3 separate regions of the Homo sapiens genome follow, and all the other regions are linked to region 2. Evidence: fine-mapped expression QTL. A gene starts in region 2. Each other region holds a variant in brackets. All regions are shown on one strand. Distances are from middle to middle. Region 1 overlaps FSTL4 (follistatin like 4). Region 2 holds the start of FSTL4 (follistatin like 4). Region 3 overlaps FSTL4 (follistatin like 4).

The links. PIP is the estimated chance that this variant, and not a neighbour inherited with it, causes the effect. A credible set is the group of variants that fine-mapping cannot tell apart.
Region 1: its variant is the best candidate, but not a certain one, in a credible set for the expression of FSTL4 in iPS cells (HipSci, PIP 0.55).
Region 3: its variant is the best candidate, but not a certain one, in a credible set for the expression of FSTL4 in whole blood (GTEx, PIP 0.55).

Annotation. Positions count from the first base shown.
Region 1 is chr5:133,588,326-133,591,172 of GRCh38, reverse strand. The region is part of intron 2 of FSTL4 (follistatin like 4); the gene reads left to right. Among named protein-coding and RNA genes, the nearest start is that of FSTL4, 23 kb to the left of the region's middle. The variant C/T (reference allele first, on the strand shown) is at 1,587.
Region 2 is chr5:133,611,122-133,613,621 of GRCh38, reverse strand. FSTL4 (follistatin like 4) reads left to right here and starts at 1,081. Exons shown (of 16, transcript NM_015082.2): 1 at 1,081-1,297. RefSeq lists a silencer at 2,350-2,399.
Region 3 is chr5:133,508,527-133,511,373 of GRCh38, reverse strand. All of the region lies in intron 3 of FSTL4 (follistatin like 4), which reads left to right. Among named protein-coding and RNA genes, the nearest start is that of MIR1289-2, 82 kb to the right of the region's middle. The variant C/T (reference allele first, on the strand shown) is at 1,629.

The DNA.
Region 1 (2,847 bases), 23 kb after region 2:
AGGCTGTAAAACAGGCTTGGCCTCCACAGGCCGACTTGCATTTTGCCAGTCACTACCCTGGTCCTCCCCTCCATCCTGGTGCCAGTGCCCTTGGCTCCTGGGGTACTATGGTTGGAATGTGTTCCCCAAAAAGCATGTGTTGGAAACTTAATCCCCAGTGCCACAAGTTGGGTGATGGTGCCTAATGGGGGTGTTTAGGTAACGAAGGCTCCATGCTCCATCCTCAGGAATGCCGATTACAGAAGGGCTTGAGACTGGGAATTGGATCTCTTGCTCTCTGTCTTTGACCTTTCACCATGGGAGTATGCAGCAAGGAGGCCTTTGCAAAATGCCAGCCCCTCAATCTTGGACTTCCCAGACTCCAGAACTGTGAGCCAATACATTTCTGTTCATTATAAAGTACCCAGTCTCAGGTATTCTGTTATAGCAGCACAAAATGGACTAAGGCAGCCTGTGTCCACGCCTGACCCATCAAACTCACTAAAGGGGAGCAGGCTTTGGTGCTCAGTTGTGGCCCTGTGACTCCAGAGATACATATCCTGTGGCTGTAGGGAGCTCCTTAGTGCAGCTGCTTTGAGGTTTAGCTGGAATCATTCTTGGAAAGAAAGAGGGGTTACATGGGAGGGGAGTCATGGCTTGACCAGATGCCTCTTCTTAGAAGGTCCACCACCCTGCCAAATCCAGCAAGCAAAATAGTTGAGCTGCTGTGGGATAATTTGGCCTGTCATCATGGAAGACAAGATGAGATAGATGCACTCCCCACCTCCCCAGTTCTGAATCTCAGCTTTGCTCCCAGCTAGATACAAAGTCTTATTGCATTAAAAATTTGGTTTTTGTTGTGATATCTCTTTCTGTGTAGCCAAGAGTTAGAGAGGGCTAGGGAACCAGGGACATCTCTAGGGTGAGGATGAAAGGGGGCAGTGTCATCTGGAGCTCTGGGCTGGAAGTCTGAATGGCTCCTCTTATCCTTCTCTTATAAGAATAAAGAGGAAGATCATGCCACTGCACTCTAGCCTGGTGACAGAGCGACAGAGCAAGACTGTGTCTCAAATAAATAAATAAATAAATAAATAAATAAAGAGGAGATTCCCAATAGGAATTCTCATTCCTAATATGAATTTCTTAATTCCATAGCTATTGATATGATAGAATTAATAAACAGCTTTCATTTTGCCAAAGCACTAAGTAGATTAATTCATTGACTTCTCAAAGAGAGTCTATGAGGTATTATTAATTTGTTTATTTTACACATGTAGAAATTGAGGCTTCAAGATAAGTGAGCTGTTTGAGATCTCCCATATAGTAAGTGGTGGAGCCAGGGTTTGCATCTGGCTTTCTGACTATCTAGCATGTATTCCTAACCACAGTATTGTGCTCTTATCCCCAAGGACATATTTTTGAATCTAGGGAAAGGACATTTGATGACATTGAGCTTTGGAAGGCCAAAGCAGACAACGTCACATCAGAGGAGGCATCCCCTCCTCCTGGAGGGCAGCAGAGTTTGAGGTGGTCTTCTGGGGCTGGGCGGTGGGTGGCCTCTTGACCTTCTGTGGGGAGAGATGAGTTCTGCCCCTATTCCCCCTCCT[C/T]CCCAACAATTTCTCTTCTTTCACCATCAGGCAGCCACTGAACCTCTGAGAATTAACATATTAACATTCCTTTGGCTATTTCCTTGCACTTCTTCCAGGATTCCACTGGGGACTTGGCAGCTACTGCCCTCACATGGGACAGTGAGGGCAGTGTCTGTGGGTGGAGGACTAAGTGTGTGATATTTGGTGGTCTCTGTTTCTGCTTTTAAGAATTGGCCTTGGGAAGTTCCTAAGGGTTGACCACAGCAGTCTCCCTTTCAGAAGCAAGGTTCTGGGGCCTTGATCTTTTTTTTTTTTTTTATTATACTCTAAGTTTTAGGGTACATGTGCACATTGTGCAGGTTAGTTACATATGTATACATGTGCCATGCTGGTGCGCTGCACCCACTAACGTGTCATCTAGCATTAGGTATATCTCCCAATGCTATCCCTCCCCCCTCCCCCGACCCCACCACAGTCCCCAGAGTGTGATATTCCCCTTCCTGTGTCCATGTGATCTCATTGTTCAATTCCCACCTATGAGTGAGAATATGCGGTGTTTGGTTTTTTGTTCTTGCGATAGTTTACTGAGAATGATGGTTTCCAATTTCATCCATGTCCCTACAAAGGACATGAACTCATCATTTTTTATGGCTGTATAGTATTCCATGGTGTATATGTGCCACATTTTCTTAATCCAGTCTATCATTGTTGGACATTTGGGTTGGTTCCAAGTCTTTGCTATTGTGAATAGTGCCGCAATAAACATACGTGTGCATGTGTCTTTATAGCAGCATGATTTATAGTCCTTTGGGTATATACCCAGTAATGGGATGGCTGGGTCAAATGGTATTTCTAGTTCTAGATCCCTGAGGAATCGCCACACTGACTTCCACAATGGTTGAACTAGTTTACAGTCCCACCAACAGTGTAAAAGTGTTCCTATTTCTCCACATCCTCTCCAGCACCTGTTGTTTCCTGACTTTTTAATGATTGCCATTCTAACTGGTGTGAGATGATATCTCATAGTGGTTTTGATTTGCATTTCTCTGATGGCCAGTGATGATGAGCATTTCTTCATGTGTTTTTTGGCTGCATAAATGTCTTCTTTTGAGAAGTGTCTGTTCATGTCCTTCGCCCACTTTTTGATGGGGTTGTTTGTTTTTTTCTTGTAAATTTGTTTGAGTTCATTGTAGATTCTGGATATTAGCCCTTTGTCAGATGCGTAGGTTGCGAAAATTTTCTCCCATGTTGTAGGTTGCCTGTTCACTCTCATGGTAGT
Region 2 (2,500 bases):
TAATAGCACAGTGCCTGCTGCATTGGAGGGGTTCAGCGGCAGGAAAATCTGTGGAAGGAAAAAACAAACGTAATATCTCTTTCTTCAGGTCAGCCTTCCATTATTCTTCCCCTTTTCCTTATATTTAACTAACTTCATCCTCAGAAAAATCCCCTCTGTCACCTCCCCCCGGCCAGGAGAGATTACAGAGGCATGGACAGAACACTGTTCACCTAAGCCAGGAAGGCCCCTGGTGCCCACGCAGCCAGAGCAGGAGGCAGGCCCTCAGAAAGTCTCCTGGCCATCAGCCTGGCCTGGGTAGGGGCTCCCTCCTAAGTTTCCTGCCAGACTGAGGCTACGTATGACCATTTATGGGCCCCTAGTTGTTACAAAGGTGTTTCCAGTTCATTCGGGAAGGAAGACTGATCTCAAAAGCTGCTGATGTTAAAGAGGGATTCAGAAAAGTTTGGGAGCCCCAGGCTTGGGGATGGGATCAGGATGGGGAAATATCCTGTTCTAAGGGAGAAGGGACCCTCTGGGCCCAGCTAGGTCAGGTAGGCAAATGTCACTTGGGATTGCCCCTGTATGCCCTGAATGTCTTAAGATTCTGTAGTTGGAAGAGGGAAGATTCAGAAAAGAGAAAACCTTTGCTGTTTCCCAGGTTGTTGGGTCTCAACGGCGGGGGATTTCACCCACTTTGTCCCCAGGGACAGCTCTCCTGCTGTGGTGTACCGGCCCGCCTGGACTCCACGAGCAATGGCCGCGGATTCAGAGACCCCCTGTGCGCCTGGAGAGCACAGCTTTGGGGAACCTGGCCCGGAAAGGAGCCTGGAGGAGAGCAGAGGTGAAGAGGGGCTGTCACTTGCCGAGCTCCACGCTAGCCAGAGGCAGGAGCGCTACGCTGGCCCTCCTCCCTCCGGGCCCTAGATGGCCCCAGCGCTCCGGAGTCATCGCGCCCCGCGTGCGCGCCCGCCTGCTCCGCGCACCTGCCGTGGCCGCCGCGCGGGTCTGACCGGCTGGCGGGCGGGCGGCGCGCACAGGTGGCGGCGATTGGGCAGGCGGGGCCCAGAGGGTGACGTCACGGGCTCCGGTCCCGGCGGCAGAAATAGGGCAGCCGCGGCGGCGGTGGCACAGCAGCGGGCAGCGGCGGCTCAGGGAGCTGGAGCCTCAACAGCCTCCAGCGAGCCCGGGACCCGCCGACAGCCCGAGAAACCAGCCGAAGGACGCGGGGCGGGGTCGCCGCCGCCGCCACGGGGTGCTCCCTCCCTCCCGCCCAAGTCCGGCCACCTGGTCTTCCCCTCGGCCCCGGCCGTCTCAGGTACGCGGGCGCAGCTCCCAGCGGGCGCGGGGAGGGTGCCATGTCGCTGGCGCCGCCACCAGCCGGTCCCGCTGCACCCCACTGGGGTCCTGGCGCCCGCGGCCCCGCATCTTGCTGCAGGGCCCGGCGCGGGCGCTTGCTTGTCCTTACTGCCCGCGCCGGGAAAGCCAAGTTTGCCCGCGGGGAAGGGACCGCTGGGCCAGGGCTCGGCAGGGCTACCCCGGCCAAGGCCAGGACTCGAGGAGAGGCTGGGACGCCGAGGCTCGTGGCCGGGGTCTACGGTGGGGACCGGAGTGACCCGGTTGGCACGCGGGGCGCCACGCAGAAGCGCTCGGGCCGAGCCCGCAGCTCGCGCCCGGCTCCGAAATCCTGCAGGCGCCGTTCTTGGGTTCAGGACCCCGAGCGGCCCCGGCGGAGCCAGGCGAGCGCGGCCCCTCGGCCCGGGCCCGGTGCCCTTGGCTCCGGGTTGGGGCGCCGGGCAGGCATTCTCAGCACCTCCTCCCCGCGGCTTTGCGGGGAAACTTGCGTCTCCTCGCTGCAGCCCAAAGGGCCCGCTGCGCTTCGCCTGGCCCTGGCTTCCCCGGGGTCCGCCGCATGTGAGGCTGGGGAGGAAGGAATCAGGGCACGACCCGACTCCAGGCAGCCTGCGGCGCTGCTTGTGCGTAGCCGGCCGCGGTCCAGAGTGAGCGGCCCGGGGTACCCGCTTGAACGTGTCTAGGGAGCAGTGTGTTGGGGGCGTTCAGCGTTCGGGCTGGGGGCTTGGTCCTAAGAGAGCTTGCACTGTGGATGATCTCCGCCCTCTTTGCGCCCGCAAAACAAAGACGAGTTCTGAGTTTCAGGAGGGACCTGGACGAGGCAGGCACAGCACTCTGCTTTCGGCGCCTGTCGCCTCGAGTTTGGGGACGAGCTGACGCTAGTCTTTGGGGCTCCCTGCAGCCGACAAAGCGGCGCCAACCCCAGGCCTGCCACCTGAGGACTTTGTGCCCGCAACTCTTGCGGGAGCGGAAAGCCGCCGAGGCAGTGGGGTTTCTTGTTTTCCAGAGCGCGGCGAGCCTCCGCGCGGCGCGGCAAGTGCACTAGGAGTGCGCGGGTCAGCGGGGCGGGCCCGGCGAGGTCGGTGTCGCGGCTCGAGAGCGGGTGCCGGGGCGCTGTCCAGCAGCCCTCGCTCGCGGCCGCGGGCCGCCGACACTGATGAATGGCGCG
Region 3 (2,847 bases), 100 kb after region 2:
GCTACTGGGGAGGAGAAGAGGGAACAGCGCAAATCCAGAAGCCTGGTTCTTTGTCCTTAAGGTCTGGCTGGAAAGAAGAAGAGCACATGCAACTCCATCGCTGAATGATCCTGAGTATCTCAGGGTGCTGATCATGTCCTAACCAGGGACCCAGGCCCATGGCAGACCACTTGTGCCACAGAGAGATGCCAGCTTAGGTTGAGGGACCCAGAGGAGCCTGGCCCACAGCTGGTCTGGCTGTGCTTGGGGTGCCCTTGAAGGCATGGCCTGTGGCCTTGATGGAACTCAGAGGGGATACATCTCATCTCAGGCCCAGAAACTGAGCTCGCAAAAACTCCTTGAGCTGGAGGTGAGAGATGACCAAGCAAGAGAAACATCAGTTGCTACAAAATCACTGTAAGAATGGCTTCTGAAACAGGGGCCAGCCCGAGAGCTATACAGAAACCCTTTTTGAGCGAGAGCTGGCTTTCATGTCCCCATCTCACAGATGGGTTTTGACGTCAGAGGAGAGAACCAGCGGAAACCTTATCGAGTGGGACACGGCTGTGGCTCTAGCCTTGCGCTCAGATCCATTTTGCTGACTCACCGGTAGAGGCAGAGGACAGGATCGCAAAGCTCCTGTCTTCCAGAAAGGACTCCCTGGGGCTCCATGAAGAGAGCGCTCTCAGTAACATTTACACTACATTTTGTTCCTGTTTGCCTTTAAAATGTTTTGTTTTCCCCCAGTTCTCTTGGAGTGGGAGATAAAATCTGGGTAGGGAGCTAAGTTTGTGGTTTCTCCTTCTGCTGGAAAAATTGATCTTCCTGAAAGCTTGCATGGTCTGTTCTCAGGGAAGGCTGGGAACATTGTTGGGTAGGTCCAGTAGCAAACTCCAGACTCATAAATGAATCGTGGAGAGCTGACAGGAAGGTACCACCTGGACAACATGAGCTTTAGCCCAACCTGGGAATATCCATGCACAGTCCTTGGGGTTTGAAAGGTAATTTTTTATATAGAAATAAGCAGGAGCTCATTTAACTTACCACATGGTCTTTTGGGGGTCAGTGGATTTGTTAATATATGATGCCAACAAGGTGTTTTGCCCAGAACCACTGTGTAGAGGGTGTTGCTGTGGGCTGTTGTCTATTGTTTCACAGCATTGAGGGTAAGGCAACGAGGTTCCATTGTCTGGCCATGCCACTTAACTCTGTGACCTTAGACAAATTAGTTAATCACACTATGCCTCAGTTCTTTCAACTGTAAAATGGGGATAATGCTGGTGCCTTCCTCATAGGGTTATTCTGAGGATTAAAGGATATAACGTACTAAATACCTTGGCACAGGGCCTAGCATACAGTGGGCACTAAATCATTGGTTATGATTATGAAGTATGAGTGAGTGGACCAGATCTTTTGCCTACACTCCATATCGGAAACCAGATGTTTGTCCCTAGAGCTCTGTGGTCAGTGAACACGTGCATGACTTCTGAGGTTCCTGCCAAGGTTCAGAGCAAGCATTTCAGGGTCAAGGCTCTGGGTCAGTGGGCACTGCCCAGGGCAGCAGGAGAGACAGAGCTGTCACACTGCCTGCCCAGCTTCATGGCTGTCTTTGTATCTGTTCTCCTTTCCTGGTTGCTTACATATGTTAT[C/T]GTGTTAGGCCCATTATCCATAATGAAACATTCAGAGTGTTTAGCAACCCAGAAGCTATTGCAGTCCTTCGCTGAAGGACTCTGTTGTTATGAAATGAATCATTTCCAGGAGAAAACAAGTGAAAGCTCCAACAGCCATACTCCTGGGCTGAGAGCAATAACCATTTAAATAGCGAGAGTGAACACTCATTGGTCTCAACCCCTTAAAAGGTTTTCTTGGGATAAATTGGTGCTTGCTGAGTGATTTGCTTCTCTGTGAGGGTATTCTGGGTGCTGGCTGAAATGAGCAAGGAGGAGGCAGGCCCTGGACCACAAAGGCTCCTCTCTGATAAAGAATCAGAAGAGGAAATTAGAAAAGCAAAAATCTGGACAGGCCATGAAAAAGAGGAGACGGAGAAGGTTGGCCAGGTCTTTGCTGTGTTGTAAAAAAGAGGAGGTTTCTGTCTCTTGAGAATCCAGAGCCCAGAGGAGATGAGGTGTGGGGGTTGCAGCTCTGTAGCCAGGGCAAAACTGCAGGAGAAGGGCTCACCCAGTGTAGCAGGGCAGCTCTGCTGTGGTCTGAAGGAGGCTTAAACACAGGGATGGGAAAGTGATGGGGTGGCTGGAATAGGCCTGCATTTTGAAAATCAAAACTAGATTTATTTCCTTTCATTTGTTGTACTGCTGTGGTTACTCAGAAACCAGCAACTATGTCAGGTTCCTGGTTTACAGAGTAAACCAATAGCAAGTCCTTTAATGTGCTTCTAGAGGTATGCTTTCCTTCCTTGAGAAACAAGGAAGGATTACAAGATTAACACTTACCTTATATATGAGTAAGATGATTAACAAGATCAGCACTTACCTTATATAAGAGTAAGATGAAAGGCCCAACAAGACAGACTCTAAGGAGCATGTAAAATATCAAGCCTTGCTTAAACAGGATCTGGGCAAAATACATCCTAGCAGTTTGCATTAAACAGATTATACTGTTAATGCTATTTTAAAGCTATTTGCTTCTCACTCATGTGGTTTCAGGACTTCCACAGATACTAAAATCCTCAGATGCTCAAGTCCCTTCTACAAAGTGGTGTCGTTTTTGCATATAACCTACACACGTTCTTCCATACACTTTAAATGATCTCTGGATTACTTAGTCATGTGCTGCATAATGATGTTTCAGTTGACAACAGACCGCATGTACAGTGGAAGTCCTGTACGATTACACTGAACCTGAAAAATT